2 separate regions of the Homo sapiens genome follow, and region 2 is linked to region 1. A link means that fine-mapping ties the variant in region 1 to the expression of a gene that starts in the linked region. Tissue or cell type: lymphoblastoid cells. Region 1 holds a variant in brackets; the other region holds the start of a gene. All regions are shown on one strand. Distances are from middle to middle. Region 1 has its middle 89 kb from the start of ADCY1. Region 2 holds the start of ADCY1 (adenylate cyclase 1).

The links. PIP is the estimated chance that this variant, and not a neighbour inherited with it, causes the effect. A credible set is the group of variants that fine-mapping cannot tell apart.
Region 2: it holds the start of ADCY1, and the variant in region 1 is the best candidate, but not a certain one, in a credible set for the expression of ADCY1 in lymphoblastoid cells (TwinsUK, PIP 0.51).

What each region holds. Positions count from the first base shown.
Region 1 is chr7:45,483,115-45,488,488 of GRCh38, reverse strand. No RefSeq gene overlaps it. Among named protein-coding and RNA genes, the nearest start is that of ADCY1, 89 kb to the left of the region's middle. The variant TG/G (reference allele first, on the strand shown) is at 2,485.
Region 2 is chr7:45,572,159-45,577,532 of GRCh38, reverse strand. It overlaps ADCY1 (adenylate cyclase 1), which reads right to left and starts at 3,165. Exons shown (of 20, transcript NM_021116.4): 1 at 2,351-3,165. The coding sequence starts at 2,989. RefSeq lists a silencer at 2,680-2,779 and an enhancer at 3,591-4,151.

The sequences.
Region 1 (5,374 bases):
CTCAGAATAAATCTCTTCAAACATTTTAGAGTTTGACTCCTTTTTGTTGACACTTTTCTCCTATTAATCAATCTACTTCATGTCAGTGATTTTCAGCAAACCTCCAAGGTACCAAGGGCCTTGGCCCCCACAAAACTCTTTGTTCAGGATGCAATTGTTCATTCAATATAGAAAGAGTGGAAAGTCAGCCATAAACTAGCACAGGCAAACAGCTAAACATAAGAGACATGTGATTTCCTCAACTAGTACCGAAGAAAGTGATAAAATAACTTTTTTTTTTTTTTGCTTTACAGGAATTCAAATGAAGAAGACAAAATAATTGCAGAAGTTGTGATGACTTCCACACTGTATATCACCTTCAGTCTTTCAGCTCAAATGACTGCCTTAACATACTGCTGCCAAAAGTATTTTCTGATTCCAACATTGCAAGAAAATTTATAAGTGCCAAAACAGAATCTCCTGCAATAATAAAATACGTAACCACTCCATTTACTATCACAGAGATTATCAAAGCTCCAACTACCTAATCTTTTTACAGCACAGACCCAGAAGCAAAACCAAGTAATCACAATACAGAAACATTAATTCCCTTTGCTCATGCAATATGTTTCTCTTGAAAAACACTTGCTTCTACGGTTGTCCCAAGTAAGATATCTTTCAGAGGAGACATCAATAATATTAGCAGATTTTCGCAGTGATTCTCTTATTGACTTTGTGGTTAATGAAAAAAAGTACTGCTTTTCATGGAAATGATACAAATACACATTTTGCTGGATGTTTGTGTAAAGGTGCAGAAGACAATGTCTATTGAAAGTGGCATAATAAATGATTCTGTGGCAGGGTTGGCTGTCCTGCCCATATTCTGCATAATGCTGCTCAAACAGCAGCTGATGTTCTTTCTATTGACATCAAAGTAATTGTCACAAAATTGTTCTCTAATTTCAGCATTAATACTGTTTGAACTGAGTAATTAAAGGGCTTTGGTAATTTTCTGGGCATTCTGTAGTGCTCAATTCACTCACATTCAAAAACTGTTTTCTCTCTTTAACAAATTCAGTTGAGAGACTCCTCAGTTTATTTGAAGCACTGAAATCATACTCTAATTCTGAAGAAAAGGCACTAAAATTTCTTCTTGACTTTATAAATAATTTACTGAGTGAAACCTACTTATTCCTTGCTCAGAGTTTTCAATATCCCCTTAGCAATAAGATTATGCAAATTGAGAGAAGAGCAAACAGTGTTATTGAAGGACTCTATTGCCTAAAGGAACTTATGAATACATTAAAGAAACCATTAAAGAAATATTTATCCCTTTAAGTATCATGGCTGTTCTTCAAAGGGACAACATTAATTATGAGCAGAAAAGGAAATTCTGGCTCAAAGTGGATAATTATTATGGCATTTGCCATGACTATCTTTGAAATGGATTTCATCCCTTTAAAAATTTCTTTCTTTTACATGAATGTTACTAATACTCTCTCAACCTGGGAACAACAAGAAACATCATGTGTAATGTTAAAGGGAATAAAAATTGACTGTCCTTTTTATTGTTGGTGGTGGGCCACATCTTCAAAAGTTGATGAATGACAGATACAATGGAATCTCTAAGAATGAGAAAGCAAGCTGTACTAAAGAGGTGGTATTATGCACCTCAACAAATCAAACCCCAAGGGCAGTTTTCAGAGTTGCTAACTTTATGCCGGGGTGTGCTCAGTGTGCCAGCTCATAATGCTAATGTTGCACAGTTGTTCTCATTAATGATAGCCAGTGGGCAGAAGAGTGACTAAAGTAACGGAAAATGAGCTATCACTGCAAGGAATTTTTTAAACAAGTTCTACAAACAAGAAATGGCTAAGGAGAACCAAATCATCAAGAAAATGTAATAAAAGAGAGGTATGTAACTTAGATTCTTATGATTTACTTCAGCTAAATGATGAATAATTCTTAGTACAAATATATCCATGCAATATGTTTCTTTTATATCAATGAATATATACATAGCTAATTAGAAAGAACTTAAATGAATATCAATACTTTTATGATCTAAGTCCAGCAGCCCTGCCCTGACAGAACTCACCAATTTCACCTCTCTCCTTACACTGCATTTTCTAGAGCCAAGCATGGCGTTTATATTAAGAAAAAAAAAATAGTAGCCTGAATCTGTTCTTAAGCATGACTGATAATCAAATGAGTTTTACCAATTTCCTAAACTGTGAGCGGAAATTATTCTTAAAGTTTCCAATTTAGGAAAAATTAATAAAAAGTTTGACAGACTGTTCCCTGAGATGTATATGCAGAGTGTCTTACTCAGGTTGGGCTGCTATAACAAAAAATACTATAGACTGAGTGGCTTATACAACTTAATTTCTCACAGTCTACTGGCTGGGAAGTCCAAGATCAAAGTGCTGGTTGATTTGGTTCTTGTTGAGGGCTCTCTTACTGGCTGGCAAACAGCTGCCTTCTTTTTTTTTTTTTTTTTTTTTT[TG/G]AGACGGAGTTTCACTCTTGTTGCCCAGGCTGGAGTGCAATGACACCATCTTGGCTCACCGCAGTCTCTGCCTCCCGGGTTCAAGCGATTCTCCTGCCTCAGCCTCTGGAATAGCTGGGATTACAGGCATGCGCCACCACACCCAGCTAATTTTGTATTTTTTTTTGTTGTTTTTAGTAGATACGGGGTTTCTCCACGTTGGTCAGGCTGGTCTCGAACTCCTGACCTCAAGTGATCCACCCGCCTCAGCCTCCCAAAGGGCTAGGATTACAGGCATGAGCCACCACACCCGGCCCTAACAGCTGCCTACTTATTCCGTCCTCACATAGTGGAAAGAAGGTGAGAGAGTTCTCTGGTGTCTCTTTTATGAAAACACAAATTAATCCCATCATGGAGGCTCCACTCTCTTGACCTAATTACCTTCCAAAGGCCCCATCTCTTCTTCCAAATGCCATCACATTGAGGGATTAGGGCTTCAACATATGAATTTTGAGAGGATGTAAATATTCAGTCCATAACACAGAAGTTTTTTCTTCTCTATTTAAAACTCAAGAGTTTCCAAAATATTTTACATACTTATGCATATATATGCACATATATATGTATGTGTGTGTATGTATGTATGTGGATATATGTATATATGTATCTATATATAGTGCGTATATATATGTGTATATATGTGTGTGTTTGTGTATATACATATATTTCAAAAGTTGAATGGTGCACCTGCCTTCTCCTGGTCCTTACCGCTGTGAGAGCCACTTGGCAGAGTCTGGAGGGCACTGAGAGTTGGGCAGAGGTCTGAGCTATGTTCTTGCCTTGAAGGTGATATGATGGCTAGAGCTGCAGGGGCTACTCTGTGGCTTGTGAGAAACAAGCTAAGGGGATTGCTAAGGGAACTGCCCTGACACCACTGAGCTGCTGCGCCAAGCCCCAGACTTCTTGTTTATTTGAGCCACGAGTGCTGCTCTTCTCTTACTCATATCTGAAAATATTGCAGAGCCTAACATCAGGTCATGGGCAACACCAGCGTCTGGAAAAATGGTATGTCCTTGTGTAAGGGATAAAGATAAAAGGTGTGACATAAGTGGCCAAACAGTGGAGACCCTAAAGAGCTCAGGATAAACTCTGCAGGGTGGCTAGGGTCCTGGAAAATGCACACCCTTTTTATTTTAAAAAGCATATTTAGTCTTCAAAGCTAATGATATTTCAAAACATACTTGAAAACATATTTTCTTCAATTTTAAAATCTTAGACTGCTTTGATACTAAAGTAGAAATAAAAACTGAATGAAACTGCATAATCGGGTCTGGAAAGTCAAATATGGAGAATGTGTTCCAGGCAACACTTCAGAATACAAATATTGTGATGCTGTAAATGCAGACTGCAGGACGGTGTGTGTGGTATCTTTTCTATCAATTTGCTGAATTTAATGGGCATATTTTGGCACATCAAGTGAAATAACAAACTTCCTAATTCTTTTTGTGAAAGCCATTCAAGCTGTTAGAGGGAAAATGCTGTTTTATAATCTATAATCAGGGGAACTCCTCCCAGCTTGCACCAGGACTACGAGGCCTAATAATGTAGCTGTAATAAGAAGAAAAGAACACTAAAATTTCTCAGCAGGCTGCAAACGAGCCCCGAGACATCCAGCAAAGGAAGTGCTTCCCGTCGATCCTCTGCAGGGGTGAGCAGGCAGTGGGGAGAGCCACGGCTCCCTCAGGAGGTGACTGAACTGAGCCACTGGTAGTGGCGTGAGGCAATGGCCTTCAGCTGCAGTGCTTTAGTGCTTAACTGACAGAAATCCTATTTTCCTTGTGCAGTGATTCTGAGAAGTGAGTTTGCATGGAGTGATCAGAGATAGTGCTTCCTGCCTCCTTTTCCTCTTTCCTGCCATTCCTCTTGATAACCAAATCAGCTCTGGATGGTGTAGGGGTCAATGAAACAGGTGGCCTTCAGAGCAGGTGTTTGGGACAAGCAGAGCCAGGTGATTCTGGCTTCCACACCCTTCTGGCTATGATACTTGGACATGTTACTGGGCATGTCTGTGCCTTCCTTTCCTCACTTATACTATGGAGATAAAGCGGTGCTGCTGTTGTACAATTGCAGGAAAAATTATGTGACGTCACCCTCAGTATCTGACCTACAATCAGCATCTAGGCGGGCACTCTAAAGATGGCAGCAGATTCTCAGCAGAGTGGTAGTCTACACCCAGGTGAAGATCCCTTCCGTTTTCCTTGCTATTCCTGCTTCTTTGCTCATCACTATCTCACAGAAGCACAGTGACTCCCGCGCCTCCCCCTGTAGGGCAGTTCTCAGGACCGAGGGGCGATCCACGGCTCTCCTACTAGCTCCAGGTGAGCCTTCTGCAAATAGGCCACATGTCTAAGCCGTCACTCTCTGGGGATACTGCAGAATGACTCTCATGTGACAAATTAAGACTAATTCCATTGATGAGGACCCCGCCCTTGATCCTGTCACCTTGACTTATACACTGTGATGCCTGGGGGCAAATCAGCCCTGAGGGGCACCTCATAGTTCTCACAATGCTGAGGGAAAATCATATCTTTGAACCTGTTTTGCACAAAGTGAATAAACGTGAATTGTATTTTCTTGTTCTCTTGGGATGGTCTTGAAATAGCTCAGCAAGTTTGCAGATGATAGTAGCTGGATTGGTTTGGGGGTGACATGGGGATTGGCAAGGGAGGGTGGATATCAGCCCCGGATCTAAAATGATACCTTAACAGTCTTGGGAAAGGGATCCTATTTAACTGAAATAAATGCAAAGTCTTGAGATTTGCTCCCAAAATGTTTCCAACATCACAAATACTAAGTAAGGAGAAACAGAGCAGGAGCCAGCTCAACAGGGATCCCCCTACCAAAATTGGG
Region 2 (5,374 bases), 89 kb before region 1:
GAGCAGCAGAAACATCAATGCTGTGTAAATGCGTGTGCTGTCTTCTTCACCATCTCAAGCACCAAACTGCAGAGCTCATTATGGACAGATTTCACAGGCTCCTGGAATTCTCTAATTGGAAAGCAGAATCCCTGGGAATCATCTGCCCTGCTCCCCCCACTGTAAGTCTCCCTGCATTGATCCCCATGTGTTTGTCAGTATCACTACCACCTGTATAGACACGTGGACTTGAATAGAACATTCTAAAAAGGCCAATATGTGCTTTTCCAATAGGAAGTGTTTACCTTCACTACAACCCTGCAGGGGGCCATTCTGCCCTTTACACAGGTGAGAAACCTGAGGCTCAGTGAGGGAAGGCTTTGGATTGCCCAGGGAGTCACAGCTAGCAGGGAAACCCAGATGTCTGCTCCCTAAGAATCCTTGCTCCCAGGATGGGCTTCCTTCCCCACTACAGTGACAGTCACAGGGGCTCATCTTATCCCAGGGGGAGAGGCAGAGTTCCCTGTGTCCAGAAACTCCTTTATAGACTCTCCCCTCTCTCTTTTTTAATCTTTAATTCTCTAAAAGAAATGACTAGAGGCTATATAGGAAATGTCTTTATTTTAAAAGAGAAAGACAATAACGCAGCCTTTTATTACACCAGCTGACTCCCTGGTGTAATAAGAGAGAATGCAGTGTGGTTGGGATCCCTGGGCCTGCCCAGGGACCAAGCTCAGCCCCTCCCTATTCCCAAGCTGCCCTGGCATCTGGTCAGATTGGGGAGGCCGTCTTGCGGTTGCGGGTCTGGCTGTGGGGGCCAGCATGAGGCCCAGGCTAAACACAGACAGATGGGGGGTGGAGGCAGTAGGAGATACAGGAATGCCCCCTGAGACTGATAAGGCAAGGCCCACGTGCTGCCCACAGGAGGCTGTGGAAGAGCCTCCTTCCCCTCCAGGACATGAAGTCCTCTGGCTCCTTTCCCCTTTCCTCAGCCTTTAGCCATCCTTTTGTGCCTCTGCCCTTCACCTCTACCTCTCTTCCTCTCTTCCTCCGACGCCCTCTTTGACAATTCTCCATGTACTCCTGCCTTCTTCCCTCCCGCCCCTGCCCACGGGTTGAGCACATGGTGGTCTCTCTCTGACCCTAAGACACAAGTCCAGTGATGTGTCTATCCCTGTGCCAGGTTGAGCATCTCATGGCTCCTCTGACTGTGTGCTGCCCCTGGCATCACAGTCTAAGGATGCCTCCTTAGATCCTTGGGTGCTGGTCCCCCGGGGCCGGGCTGTGGGACTCCTTACCACCGCCCCCCAGTTATTCTTCCCTAATCTCTCTGGATTCAGCTTCCCCTCCGACCCCTTACCTCTCCCCAGTTTGCTCCCACCACTGCTTCCTTTCGTGAGATGGGCTCCCCCACTCCATTTGAGTCATACCATCCCCCTGCTAAACTGCAGCTAGAGGCAGAAACAAAACCCTCCTCAGGGTCTTCCAAATCTCCCCACCCCCCAACTCCCCAGCCCCATCCCTGCGGCCCGTTGGAGATGGGCACAAGGGGAAGCTCTCAAAGCCCCGCCGTGGGGCAAAGACCTCTGGTCCACGTCCACCTCCGGGCAGTTGGAAGAGCAGGCTCCTCCAGGGCCCAGGAAGAGTCCGCGGGAGGCAGACAGCGTCCCCGTCCTTGCAACCATCTCGCCCGCCCGACTGGGAAGACAGTGACAAAGTTCGGGCGCAGAAAAGGCAGGGTCAGGGCAACCGCCGAGTGGCAGCGGCAGGGACTAGACTGTGTTTGACCTTGGCAAACCCCACTCTTTCTGGGCCGGAGGCATGTCCACAGAAGGGTGGCCAGCAAGGCTGGAAGAGCCGAAGTCCTTTCCCACCACCCATATACCACCCTCGGGTCCGCAGGGTTGGGAGGCGAGCCCAGCACGCGCTCTAGGTGCGCAGGGGAAGAGCCCAGCGCTGCGCGCAGAGCCGGCCTTGGAGCTTGCCCTGGGGGTCTGCTCTCCTCGCCCACTTTCAGTCCCTCTGTGGGGATGGGTGCGGCAAAAGACCGGCGGACCCCTCTGGCCGCCGTCTGGCCGCTCATCAGCTCCCTGACCTTGGCCAAACCTTTCTCTCTCCACACCTGTCTCCCCTCTCCACACTTCACGCCAGGGGCGCTTCGTGGATTGTAACTCTGAAGAGAGCCCTGGCCGGAGGGTGCCAGCCCCGACTGCGTCCCCAACTCGTAGGAGTGACCTTGAACACACCCCCACTCGGAGCCTCAGTGTCCCCACCCGCCGCATAGGAAAAAGCGCGCCCGACTCCGGGCATTCCCAGCATCGTCCCAGCAAGTGTGTCCGAGACCAGATGAGGGGTGCGCGGCTGCACTTACCGTCCTCCAGAGACGTGGGCGCTTGGCGGGGACCAAGGTGGCTGTGACCAGCAAGTGCGACGCAGCCACCACGAGCCCAAAGCCTATGGCCAGCAGGCTGCGCACGGGCAGCAAGGCATAGGACACGAAGGTGACCAAAAGGAGCTGCCAAACCCCTTGTTCGGCGGTCGCTGGCCCCCCAGCGGCCCCGGCGGAACCCCGGGCGGGGCCGCCCAGCGCGAAAGGACAGCAGAGCAGCGCGAAGGTGAGGCTGAAGAGCAGCGCCAGCTGGCCGACCTGCTGCAGCTGGGGCACCTGCAGGGACCGGACGTTGGTTACCACGAGCAGCGCCAGGAAGAGGACGCAGTGCACCGGGTGTGAGCCCTTGGCCAGGCCGGGCGCGGGCCCCGGCGCGCCCAGCAGCTCGGCCAGCGCCAGCGCGCCCGCCAGCAGGCTGAGAACGGCCAGCGCCTTCAGCGTGGCCGCCTGCTCCAGCCGCAGCGTGTAGCCGCGGAACAGCGCCTCCAGCTCTGGGCAAGCGAACTCCTCGTCGCACGCCCGGAGCCCGCGCCGGCGGCTTGTCCCGGCCGCCCGCTCGGCGCCCCCGGGCTCGCCCGCGCCGCCTCCGCCGCCGCCTCCGCCGCGCGGCGCCCCCGCCATCTCAGCGCCATGCAGCGGCCGCGGCCGCGGGCGCGCCCCTCGCCGGCCCGGGGCGCCGGGGCGCGGGCGGCGGCGCCGGGGCGGGCGGGCGGCGGGCGGCGAGGCGCCGGGGCGCGGGGCGCGGGGCGGGCGGAGTTGGGGCGCCGGCTGCCCCGCGCGCGCGCCCGGAGCGCGTCCCCTCCCGCCCGCCGCGCCTGCGCACTGGAGCCCGCCCGCGCCCCGACCGTGGTCCTCGGCGGCGACCGCGCTGCGACAGCCGAGCCCCGGGAGCCGCGAACCTGGGCGCGCACAGCCCGCGCCCCAACTCCGCGTCCTGCGTTCCCGCCCGCCGGAGGAGCCGCGTGACCTCGAGTACCTTCCTTGTCCCCTCCGAGCCTCAGTTTCCCCACCGTGCACAGTGGAACCCACCCTCTTGGCGTCACCTGGGGAGTCGAAAATACTGAAATCCTGCGAAATTCCCTGTTGCGGGGCAGTTAATCTTGGAAAATATGTGCCTTCCCCCACTCAATAAAACCAGGCCACTAGATTTGAGAGGGGCCCGCGTCTGACTGCGAACCCAGGGCCCTCGCCCCTACGAGACGGAGAATCGACGTCCAAGAATCCCCGGGGTCAGGAGGAAGGTGGAGGCCTGGGGCGTACGTCCCTTCCATGCGCATGAGGGACCCCCCGCCCCTCGGCAATTCTTCCCTAAGCTCTAGGGTCGCGGAGACCCTGTGGGCGGGTGCGGGCTGCGGGAGCTGTGCTGGGGAGGCGGCGGTGGTGAAGTCCAAGAAACAAAGTCCTGGGAGTCGGCCCGAGGGATTCCTCCTGGGTACTGAACTGAACCAGGATGGGCTCCTGGCAGTGCTGTGTCCCGGGAAGAAGGTGTGAGGCTGTAGGTGCAGAAATGGGGCAAGAGATGAAAGGAAAAGGGGCGCTGCTGTTTGCCTTAACGATTAGCTGGATACCCGAGAGAGAGCGAAACGTTTTCTTCTAGCAGGACAATTGGGAGGGAAGGACGCTGGCCCATGGGGGTTAAAACCCGCGAGTCGAATTCCACTGCTTACATTCATTCACTATGAGGGAGACAACTTTGTGCTGGTGCTTCAAGTACATGATGTCATTTGGTGCTCAGACGGCCCCTGGGCTGCCTGCATCCCCCTTACAGTGAGGATCTCTCATGATCAGCTCCCTCCAGGAGGCCTAGAGAGGAGTAGCCACTGCAAGAACCCCTGCCTCCTCCGTTATCCCGGCTGCTTCTCGTCCCCTCAATATGGATAGACCAGGAACTGGGATCCCATGAAATAATGGAGACCAGGAGGCTAGGCCCCCTGCAGAAGGCCCCACTCCCAGAAACCAGGATTTAAGGGATCTCGCCCAGGCATTGGTCTATTTTAGAAATGCCCCAGGGATTCCATTAACTCTCAGGGATTCCACGTGTTGTTATACGGAACAAAGGTTAGAATTTGAGGCATTTCCATTTTATCTGGAATTGGTATCAGGTTGAACCATACAAAATTGCCGTTTTTGTAAAAGGGCCAAAGTTGTCACATGTCAGCTCTTTCATATGCTTCAACTTAATAGTTGCAGATGATGACACCTCTAGGCTTTGTCTAGAGTAGGGGCACTTTCCCATCCCATGTCCCCAGTAGCTCACACCAAAGGCCCCCAGCAGACACTTGATGACAGCTGGTCCCTCCTCCTGGAATAGCATCCCCAACAGAACATCCTTTCTGAAACCTTTCTGGCTCCTTCTGGCACAGCTCGTTGCTTTCTCCCCAGTCCCAGTCTTCCGTGAAAATTCATACCCACCACTCTGTAGCCTCATTTTCTGTTCATTTGCCTTCCTCCCCTCTTTGAGCTGAAGCCCTCAGAGGGCAGCACTGGCTCTGAAAAGATGGCATGGCCCAACCTCTGTCACTGACTTGAGAAAGCACCTTCTTCTATCCACTAGTCCCCTGCTTATCCCCAAATAGGAGCAAAGTCTGCAAGATTTTTCTTTTCAAGTGTTAAGATTGAAGTGAAGATTTTCTTGTTAACTGGTGTGGTATATTTTTGGATCCTAACAATTTATTAAAGAAAAGCTGAATAATATCCAAAAAGGATCAAACTACATGAAAATGAAAAAGTATGATAAAGTTAATCTGGGTGCAAAGTTTACAAATAAATGGCACCTTCTTTTACCTGTTTTGGCTCTCAACTTTGTCCTCACTCAAAAAATGACATTCAGACAGGTGCAGTGGCTCATGCCTGTAATCTCCGCACTTTGGGAGGCCAAGGCAGGGGGATCACTTGAGTCCAGGAACATGAGAGCAGCCTGAGCAACATAAGGAAGCCTCATCTCAACAAAAATTTAAAAATTAGCTGAAAGTGATGGTACATATCTTTAGTCCCAGCGGCAAATGA